Linked DNA regions of Homo sapiens: all the other regions are linked to region 2. The links come from fine-mapping of genetic effects on gene expression. A gene starts in region 2. Each other region holds a variant in brackets. All regions are shown on one strand. Distances are between the middles of the regions. Region 1 overlaps SVOP (SV2 related protein). Region 2 holds the start of USP30-AS1 (USP30 antisense RNA 1). Region 3 overlaps USP30 (ubiquitin specific peptidase 30). Region 4 overlaps SVOP (SV2 related protein).

Region 1 (2,689 bases), 47 kb after region 2:
AAGGCTTCATGAATGCTAACTAGGATTTATTTTTTATCATTACCTTTTGTCCAGGATATAAGCTAGTGGTCTGCTATCCTAGGAACAAGCTCATTGCTATTCAGGTTGACGGGGATGGCAGAAAAATGCAAATAAATAAAATCCACAGAGAACTAAAATTTCCATTAATTATAGACTTCTAACACATTCAGAAATGGAAGGAAACTTAAAGGTCATCACATCCAACCCCTCACACCCCATCTCCCCAGTTCAGAGCAGGCAGGCATCAGATGGTGACTTTCAGACTTCTGTGGCTGCCATCAACATCTTATTAAAATTCAGGTTCTTGGGCCCCACTCTGTAGAGATGCAAAAGCATTATTAGGTCTAGAGTATGGCCCAGGAATCAGCATTTTAATCAGTTCCACAGGGGTATTCTTGGCTTCAGGTACAGAAGCTTTGGCTGACTGGTTAAGATCATGGGTTTTGGAGCTACTTGAGCCAGGGTCCTAGTACACTGCATATTATCTAGGAGACCTGGAACCATTGGTGTAACCTCTCCAGCCTCAGCTTAGTTGTCTATAAACTGGAGATTTTTTTTTTTTGAGACAGGGTCTCACTCTGTCACCCTGGCTGGAGTGCAGTGGTGCAATCATAGCTCACTGCAGTCTTCACCTCTTGGGTTCAAATGATCCTTCCATCTCATCCTCCCCAGTAGCTGAGACCAAAGGTGCGTACCACCACGGTCAGCTAATTTTTTAATTTTTTGTAGAGACATGGTCTTGCCATGTTGCCCAGGTTGGTCTCGAACTCCTGGGCTCAGGTGATCCTCCCACCTCAGCCTCCCAAGTGTTGGGATTATAGGCATGAGCCACTGTGCTGGCTGAAACTAGAGTTATTAATAATACTTCCCTGTTATGATTGTTGAGTGCATTACATAAGATAGTTTATAACACTCAGGCTTGGACCTGGCATGCTGAAGTGATGCATAAATATTAAATATCATTACTCCTGAGCCAATCACAGGGACACCTGCCTCTGTTGCAGTGCCTCTCATGAGAGTGAGCCCACTGCCTCCTAAAGCAGCCATTTTCATCTCTCGACTTCTGTGCCTGATAAGGCTCCTCTTTATATTGAGTTGAGATCTGCTTCCTTCTTTCTTATACCCAGAAGTTCAAGCTCTGCTGTTAGGATTCAGGTTGAGAGGCACCTTCTTTCACAGGTCAGAGCCTCAAA[T/A]ATTTGAAGAAGAGGTTCATCTCCTGGGAAGACTCTTCTCAAATCCTACAGCTCAGGGAGTGCCCCAGGTCTTGTCTTGAAGGAGACAAAGCAAGTCCATATGTTAGTGACCTTGGCAGTCTCTGCTGCTTCAAGTGCACAGCATCTAACTCCATTTGTTGATAAGTTTCAGATTCAGAAGACGCCACATCACCAGGGTATCTGGGACAAAGCTGAGGGATACTGGTTATCAGTGTTTTTGATCGAGTTCCCCAAACAAGGTGATCCCTTCTTGCAACCCTGCCTTCCACTGGCAGAGGAGCCTCCCTATGAAGATGTCTTCTTGTACTATTTGGAAGAGTTGGGGAGAAAGGGATGAATATTTAACAAAAGCCTCAGCCCTCCACCTCTCCAACCCCCCTAATCCAAACCACCACCACCTCTTCTCCCACTGGCCACACAGCTTCCTTCCTGGCCTCCCTGACTCCTCTGCAGCCATCTTTTTGTATTAACCAGGCCATTGATTGTTTATATTCTGATGCTTCAGCATCTTGGAGGCTTGCTGACCCTGGAGGGACTTGCCCCTCTCAGAGTTAACTAATTCCTAGAAATAGCAAACAGCTCACCTGCCAGCGTGCCTTTCCTATACAAACCAATCAGGCCAGAGCCTCAGGTCTCTCCAGCCGCCTTCTTTATCCAGCTCCCAGACTCCAGGCCACATCTACCTGCCCTCATCACCCCAGAACCAGGCATGAGACAATTAAGGACAGCCCCTATGCTCCAGAGAAGGATGAAATTATTCAAACGAACCGAACCTAAGCCGGCAGCCTCTGCCTTGCCCATTTCTTTCCTGGGAAACCACAATAAAGGCTCTTGGTCACGTTCTCCCCCTATACCCTCTGCCTCCTGACAAACCCTGGGGCTGCCATGTGTGCCCCTTAAAGTGTGGCATGCCCCTTCTTCTTGGGATCTGTAAGTATGACAGAGTATATCTTGTCAATGGCTCACATCTCGTGATTTCTCAGCCTTGCCATACCTAAATAATATTAAAACCTATATTTAAGAAACGCTTTCTGGGGTGGGCACAGTGGGTCACCCTGTAATCCCAGCACTTTGGGAGGCCCAGGTAGGCAGATCATCTGAGGTCAGGAGTTTGAGACCTTTCTGGCCAACATGGTGAAACCCCATCTCTACTAAAAATACAAAAATTAGCCAGGCGTGGTAGCAGGCAGCTGTAATCCCAGCTACTTGGGAGGTTGAGGCAGGAGAATCGCTTGAATCCAGGAGTGAGAAGTTGCAGTGAGCCGAGACTGTGCCACTGCACTCCAGCCTGGGTGACAAGAGTGAGACTCTTTCTCAAACAAAACAAAACAAAACAAAACAACCCACTTTCCTCCATTGATTCCTCCTCTTGCGGGAGAATGTGCTGAGTGACCTTCTCAAAACTCAACTCTGATCATCTTCCACCCTCTTGCTGCTACTTGAAACCCTTCCAT
Region 2 (2,689 bases):
AGGTGCCTGTAATCCCAGCTACTCTGGAGGCCGAGGCAGAATGGCTTGAGTCCAAGAGGCGGAGGTTACAGTGAGCCCAGATTGCGCCACTGCACTCCAGCCTGGGTGACTGAGCGAGACTCTGCCTCAAAAAAAAAAAAAAAAAAAATATATATATATATATATATATGTATATATATGTGTGTGTGTATATATATATAAAATATTTATTGAATGACTGAATACTGGAGAAAATATACAGAAATGAATTTCTCTTTTAGAATATTAGACAGGGAAGGGGCACACATACAATGGTATAAAAGAGCTGAATATTTATAAAATTAAAGATTTCCTAACTTCAGGCTTGACTTGAACGCTGGTTATGCTTTTGCTACATATTAAGAAATTTCCCCAACAATTTAAAACATTGTTTTTATACAAAGTTATATATTTCTACAAAATAAGACAAACCATCTATGTGTATATAGCTATGTAATGTGTATCTGCATATATGTTACACATGCATACATACGTGTTTGTGTGTGTGTGTGTGTAATACATTATTATCCCAGTATTTGGATCATGTGAATATTGTTTTGATTTCAGTTCAGTAAACATTAACTTGGTGAAGAGTCACTGGTGGTAATATTGACCCTGTTTTATAATAATCAGCATTTCTTAGTATCATAGCTGATAGCTGAATTTCAGATAAATATTTGTTTTCCAAGACAGAGTCAACAGAATATGCACCAAACTTGGTTAAGAAAGTGGGATTACCTTATTCTGGTTCAATCCTGGCTTTGCTATTTCATTTGGCATCACTTCACCTTCTAAGCCTCAGTTTCCTCATCTGTACAATGGGGACAATCCATAAGACCTACCTCATAGGGCTGTTGTGAGGATTAAATAAGTGTGAATGCATACAGTACATAGTAAGAACTTAATAAATGTTAGCTGCTACAAATTAAGCATTACAATCTCAGGATCATTCATGAAAGCTATTCTTTCTTTTTTTCTTATTTTTATTTTTATTTTTTTTTGAGACAGTGTCTTGCTCTAGTTGCTCTAGTGCCCAGGCTGGAGTGCAGTGGTGCCATCTCAGCTCAACACAATCTTCACCTTCCGGGCTCAGGTGATCCTCCTGCCTCAGCCTCCCAAGTAGCTGGGACCACAGCTGCACACCACATGCCCAGGTAATTTTTAAATTTTTTTGTAGAGACAGGGTCTCACTACATTGCCCAGGCTGGTCTCGAACTCCTGAGCTCAAGAAATCCACCTGCCTCAGCCTTCCAAAGAGCTGGGATTACAGGTGTGAGCCACCATGCCCAGCTGGTGAAAGGTATTCTTGAAGTTTCTTAATACATCACTGTGCTTTTACACGATACGTGAGTTCACAAAAGTGCCTGGAAAGATTATAAAGGACTGTCATGGAAGTGCTAAGGTGCTTTACCAGTGCTTTAAAATCCCCTAATCAAACACTAATATTTAAGGGTACATACTCTCTGCCAGGCCCTGTGACAATCTTACCTCATTTTTAAAACAACCCCACAGATGCAGGTTCTACTATCACTTTCATTTTTATAGCAGAAGAAACTAAGAGCCCAACTTGGTCACAGTGAGTGAAGGAACATGGCTCTGAATCATGCCTGTCTGTCTCCCCAGGTCTGTGCTTAAAACCACGAAGTTCAAGATGGAAACTGAAGGGAAGAGTGTCAAGGGGATGGGAGAGAGGACTTGTCCATGACTTTGGCAGCATAAGGAAAAAATACCCAGGGACAAGTGGCGACTTTGGAAACTCCATTCCTCTGCAAAATGACATCACGAGGAGAGTGGTGGGGCCTGCGGATGAAAAGATCTGGCTTCTCCTCCCAACTCTGCTATGAGGTCAGCTATGGGGCCACACTTCCTATCTACGGAATGGGGGCACTGGACAGGATAAGTATCGAGGACTTTCAGCCCTGGGATAATAAGCTCTTTAAACCTGCTCCAGTTCCAGAGGAAGCCGACCTGAGCAACAGGTCTCAGTCATTTGGGGTCAGCAGTGGGGGAGGGGGTACTCAGTTCTGAAGCCTGGAGCCCTTGGGAGGGTGAATAAGAGGGAAATGGGGGCCCTGACAGGATTGGGGACCCAGGCAATCGAGGAGTCCTAACAAGAACGGAGGGCTTTAACAGGACCAAGCAACCTTAACAGGTTAAAGGGGCCCTGACCAATTTAGAGACCCTTGCAAAACAAGGGCCTTTACTCACACTAACAACATCAGGGACCCAGACAGAAGTGGCGATCCATATTAGACTAGAGGGCGGGCTAACAGGAATAGGGGGCGGTACTAACAAAACGCGGGGCTCGCAGGCCCGGGGCACTTATAGGACTAGAAGAACCGTGCCAAGGTTGGGGAACCCTGGCAGTCCAGAAACTGATATGATTGGGGGACCCAGAAGGACTGGGGGTATACTAGAAGGATTGAGGGGTCTTGGCAGGCCTAGGAGGCACTGAAAGGACTGAGGGCACTGACAGAATTAGGGGCCTTGACAAGACTGGAGTGCCCCGGGTGTCCTGGGAACAATGACAGGAGGGGGAGGGACTGACAGACCTGGGGAGTGCAGACAGAATTGGTGTTGCCGAAGGACTGGAGCCCGTCAGTCCTCCCACCTACGGGCCCAGGCCTCCAACCCTAAAGGACGCAGAACCTTCCAGAATGCCCGCGCGGGC
Region 3 (2,689 bases), 26 kb before region 2:
CCTCAAAGCCCTTTCAGATTGAAATGTTTCTGAAACAGACTCCAAATAAACCATAAATCAGTACATACCCATGTGGCGGCTGGAATACTTAGTGAAAGGCTATCAAAGGTATCAAATCGAACAGGACTCTGAAAGAAATATTGCAGAAAATCCAGAAACGATTTAGGCTTAGTTCAAAGTTTTAAAGATGCAAGATATGTGACTATGAAACAGTTTAATATTGAGATGCCCAACATTAACACAGTAAAATATAATGTACTTAGAATAAAATTCTATTAAAACATATTAAAACAACCTTGTACACATAAGAGGTACAATAATACTAAAGAATCGCTTGGAACAACTGAAAGATTAAATATCTGACCCAGCAATAATTTTGGGATTTTTAAGGAAATAACCATGGGCATAACTACAAGAATATTCATCAACATTATTTGTAATAGCAAAAATTTGAATACAGTCAGCATCACTTAACAATGGGGATACAGTCTGAGAAATGCATCCTTAGGTGATGTCATCATTGTGTAAACATCGCAGAGCGCGCTTACAAGAACCTAGATGGTGCAGCCTACTACACACCTAGGCTATACTGTCTAGCTACTACTCCTAGGCTACCAACCTGTATAACATGTTACCGTACTGAATGCTGTAAGCAACTGTAACACAGTGGGCAGTACTTGTGTATCTAAAAACAGAAAAGGTACCGTACCAATAAAGTATTATAATCTTACGGGACCACCATCATATATGTGGTTTGTCATTGACCAAAACATCATTATATAGCACATGACTGTAGTTGGAAGTTCTAGCAAATGGTTTAATAAATTATATGGCATGTCCACAGAATGAAACACTATGTTAAACAAAATGTAGAAGAACATATGATCATGTGGAAAGATGTTCATGTTAGATTATTCATTGCAAAAAAGGAGACGATGAAGTAGGGTGAGAGAGTTCCTGCTTTTGGTGATGGCAGAGGTGCTTGGGTAGATTGGCCCTCCTTGAGATAACAATTGTAAAGTTTGCAACAAAACAAAACCGTTTGAATGAACGGAGAGCTACCAAAAGCAGGCAGAAATGGAAAAGAAGTCAACTGTTGGAAAAACAGAACTCTGTGGGCGAGATTTGTGTGT[T/C]TGTGGCTTTTTTTCCTGGTTGATGTGGTGCTGGGTGGCGAAAAGCAGCATCCTACAGGATTGAGTGGTCAGACGACAGAGTTCAAGAATCAGGGCTGGTGGAGAGACCAGGGGAAATGCCAGGAAGAAAGGAGACACAGAGGGGATGAGCCCCAAAGTTTATACCTAAACTCTGTTCAATTCCAGGGCTGATCCCTGAACCACACGTGCACAGGGGGAAACTCCAGGGAGCCTGGCAAAAAGTAGCAGCTGGAAGCTAAAAAAACTGAGCAGAGATTTTGCTGCCCAATGTAGGGGAGACAGAGTTGAGTTTGAGCCCAGCCAGGTTAACTGCAGGCCAGAAGAAAATTAATTTTTCTTCATAGATATGTAACAGAATCCCTACTCTCTATGTCTCTATTATGATGTTAAGCATACAATAAAAAATTACCAAACATAAAATACAAAGAAGTCAGCACACGAGGACCTCACAGATGTATCATAAATATGCTCAAGGATGTAAAGGAAAATATACAGTGACAGTGAATGAACAAATTGAGAATCTCAGAACAATGGAAACTATTAAAAAGAAGGCAATGGAAATTCTATAACTAAAAACAACAGTGATTACGATGAAAAATTTGTTGCATAGGCAAACAGAGATTGGAGATGAAAAAAGAATCAGGCCAGGTATGGTGGCTCACACCTGTAATCCCAACACTTTGGGAGGCTGAAGTGTAAGGATCACTTGAGCCCAGGAGTTCAGGACCAACCTGAGCAACACAGTGAGACCCTGTCTCTACAAAAAATAAAAAAAAATTAGCTGGGTGTGGTGGCACACACCTGTAGTCCCAGCTGCTCAGGGGGCTAAGGTGGGAGGATAACTTGAGCCTGGGAGGTTGAGGCTGCAGTGAGCTATGATCACATTATTGCAATCCAGCCTCGGTGACAGAGCTAAGACCCCTGTCACAAAAAAAAAAAAAAAAAAAAAAAAAAAAGAAAAAAAAAAAGAAAAAGAAAAGAAAAAAAGAGAAAAAAGAATCAGTGAACGTGAAGATAAGTCAATAGAAATGATCTAATTTAAAGAACACACAGAAGAAAGATTGAAGAAAATTGAACAAGACCTCAGTGACCTGTGGGCCAACATTAAGTAAAATAACAAGTGAAAAATGGGCATAAAATCTTTGTTGAAAAAATAACAGCCAAGAATTTTCAAACTTGGTTAAAAAAAGTACAAATTTAAGAAACTCAGCAAACCCCAAACAAGATAAATAAGATAAATACTAAGAAAACCACATCTATGCGCAGCATGAACAAAAATAAAGAGAAAATTTTGTAAGCAGTGTAAGCAGAAGAAAAACAAATGACAATTTACATAGACAAGAATGATATAAATGACACTAACTGAGAAAATGGAGGCCAGAAGACAATAGAACAATGTCCTTAAAGTGATGAATTTAAAATAAACCAAAGCAAAACCACGGCAACACTGTCAACCCAAAGTTCTATATCCAGCAGTAGTATTCTTCAAAAATGAAGGCAAGACAAAAACATTTTCATATACATGAAATCTAAGT
Region 4 (2,689 bases), 84 kb after region 2:
ACCCAAGTAGCTGGGATTACAGGCACCTGCCACCAAGCCTGGCTAATTTTTGTATTTTTAGTACAGACAGGGTTTCACCATGTTGGCCAGGCTGGTCTCAAACTCCTGACCTCAAGTGATCCACCGGCCATGGCCTCCCAAAGTGCTGAGATTACAGGCATGAGCCACTGTGCTCAGCCAAATTGACCTCTTTGATTATCAATTTCCTAATACGTATAAAGAAGAAAATAACAGAACCTGTATTGGAGGGTTAATAGAGATGAATTAGGGTTAATTGAGGTGTAAATCACTGTTTCTTTTGTTTTTTTGAGACAAGGTCTTGCTCTGTTGCCCAGGCTGGAGTGCAAAGGTGCAATCATAGCTAACTGCAGCCTTGACCTTCTGGGCTCAAGCAATCCTCCCACCTGAGCCTCCCAAGTAGCTGGGACAAGACTTGTGCCACCATGCCCAGCTAATTGTTTTTTTATTTTTTGTAGACAGACAGGGTCTCACTATGTTGCCCAGGCTGGTCTCAAACTCCTGGCCTCAAGCAGTCCTCCCACCTCAGCCTCCCAAAGTGCTGGGATTACAGATGTGAGCCACTGTGTGAATCTCTTTGTACAATGCCAGGCACATGCTAGGCACAGGACACATGTAAACTGAAATTCCGAGTGTAGCATTTCTGACAAGACCCCATGCAATGTCAATGCTTGGGACCATACTTTGAAAACGATTGGCTTAGACTAAGAATAACCTACTACTGGAGCTGGGAATGGGCTACCTCAACAAACCTAGAATTCTGTTAGGAAGGAAGAAGTGAGATCTGGATGCTGGGTAGGTAACAGGCAATCTCCACTACAACTAGCAAATCATGGGCTGAAAATAAAATAGCGCGTTGTATAGCAGGCATGATGCAAAGTATGGTTCATGCGTTAGCTCATCCAATCCCCTTAATAACCATTGAAGTAGGTGCTATTATCACTCTAACTTGATAGAAGAGGAAACTGAGGCACGGAGAGTGGGCAACTTACCCAGGACCACATGGTTTGCTCATCACAGAATCAGGTCTTGCTCATTCTAAGTCTAGAGCTCTGTCTTCACTATGATGCCTGTGGCTTGAATCAGTAGGTGCTCCAGAAGCAGGTGATGGCTCAATGAATGAATGAACGTTCCAGCAATGCCATAGAGGATGCAGACTCCAGCTGCATCCCCTCTCACTGCTATTGCGCAGGAAACTTGGGCCAGCAGACACCTGGAAGATGGTGATCAATATAACTGCCAAGAAATGGTGATCAATATAATTGCCAAGAATGTAACTCCAGAGGCAGCAGGCTGGAAACTAAATGCAGCCATGATGGGCCT[C/T]GGGGTCTTGGCCGGTGATGGGGCTGGAGATGGCAGTTGGAAAGGCCTCTCTGGGGCTCCCAAAGGAAGTAAAAGCTGGTTATTACCCCCCTGTTAACCCAAGAAGGAATTACTCTGGTCTTCAGTGGCAGCTCCTTAGATTCTGCCCCCATCTGCTCTCCCACCCACTTCCTGTTTCTGGAGCATATGAGTGATGGCATGGTGATTTTCTGTTTGGAAGAATGAACAAGAGTTTAAGGACAGGAGAGAGGAAGGAAGGAAGGAAGGAAAAAAAAGGAGGAGGGAAGTAAAGAAGAAGGGAGGGAGGGAGAAGGGACAGAGGGAGGGAAGGAAGAAAAAAAGGAAGGAACTAAAGAGGGCATGAACGCGGTGGCTCATGCCTGTAATCCCAGCACTTTGGGAGGCCGAGGTGGGAGGATGACCTGAGGTCAGAAGTTCGAGACCAGCCTGACCAACATGGTGAAACCCCATCTCTACTGAAAATACAAAATTAGCCAGGCATGGTGGCGCATGCCTGTAAGCTACTCAGGAGCCGAGATCGTGCCATTGCACTCCAGCCTGGGCAACAAGAGTGAAAATTTGTCTCAGAAAAAAAAAAAAGAAAGAAAAGGAAAGGGGGAAAGAAGAAAGGAGAAAGAGAGCGAGGTAGGAAGGGAGGGGGGAGGAAGAAAGGAAGGAGGTAGGGAGAGAGAGTGAGGAAGGGGGAGAAGGAAGAAAAAAGGAAGAAAGGAGGGAGGGAAGGAGGAGGGAAGGAAGGAGAGAAGAAAAAACACCTCTGAAAATAAAACAGAGTCATTTTTGTTTTGATGGAGCTGAGCAGCCGTTAAAAGAACTGTAAAGCTGTGGCTGTCTGAGGCTGAATCCAATGTTAATCTTTAAGCCTTTAAAATAATCAAAGGAGGCCAGGAGTGGTGGCTCATGCCTGTAATCCCAGCACTTTGGGAGGACAGATCACCTGAGCTCAGGAGTTAGAGACCAGCCTAGGCAACATGGCGAAACCCCATCTCTACAAAAACTACAAAACTTAGCCAGGCCCAGTGGCATGCACCTGTAGTGCCAGGTACTCAGGAGGCTGAGGCAGGAGAATTGCTTGAACCCAGGATGGGGAGGCTGCAGTGAGCCGAGATCATGCCACTACACTCCAGCCTGGGCAACAGAGCGAGACTCTGTCTGGAAAAAAAAATTCATTTATTTGTTCCTGAGACAAACATGCACAAACACACACACACACACACACACAAAAGACAAACATGCACACACACACACACACACACTTCAGGAATCCATAATGAGGAAATTTGCTGAACCCCAAATTCTGCTATCCAATTGCTGAATCATAAGGCAGTGA

The links. PIP is the estimated chance that this variant, and not a neighbour inherited with it, causes the effect.
Region 1: its variant is fine-mapped to the expression of USP30-AS1 in T cells (TOPMed, PIP 0.98).
Region 3: its variant is fine-mapped to the expression of USP30-AS1 in whole blood (INTERVAL, PIP 0.99).
Region 4: its variant is fine-mapped to the expression of USP30-AS1 in whole blood (TOPMed, PIP 0.98).

Annotation. Positions count from the first base shown.
Region 1 is chr12:109,005,932-109,008,620 of GRCh38, reverse strand. All of the region lies in intron 1 of SVOP (SV2 related protein), which reads left to right. LOC105378256 (a long non-coding RNA gene) reads right to left here. Exons shown (of 3, transcript XR_945331.3): 3 at 900-1,541. Among named protein-coding and RNA genes, the nearest start is that of SVOP, 14 kb to the left of the region's middle. The variant T/A (reference allele first, on the strand shown) is at 1,215.
Region 2 is chr12:109,052,860-109,055,548 of GRCh38, reverse strand. It overlaps USP30-AS1 (USP30 antisense RNA 1), which reads left to right and starts at 1,584. Exons shown (of 2, transcript NR_038996.1): 1 at 1,584-1,863. All of the region lies in intron 1 of USP30 (ubiquitin specific peptidase 30), which reads right to left. RefSeq lists enhancers at 1,577-1,946, 2,280-2,689.
Region 3 is chr12:109,078,773-109,081,461 of GRCh38, reverse strand. It overlaps USP30 (ubiquitin specific peptidase 30), which reads right to left. Exons shown (of 13, transcript NM_032663.5): 8 at 69-128. Among named protein-coding and RNA genes, the nearest start is that of ALKBH2, 13 kb to the left of the region's middle. The variant T/C (reference allele first, on the strand shown) is at 1,134.
Region 4 is chr12:108,968,637-108,971,325 of GRCh38, reverse strand. All of the region lies in intron 5 of SVOP (SV2 related protein), which reads left to right. Among named protein-coding and RNA genes, the nearest start is that of SVOP, 51 kb to the left of the region's middle. The variant C/T (reference allele first, on the strand shown) is at 1,342.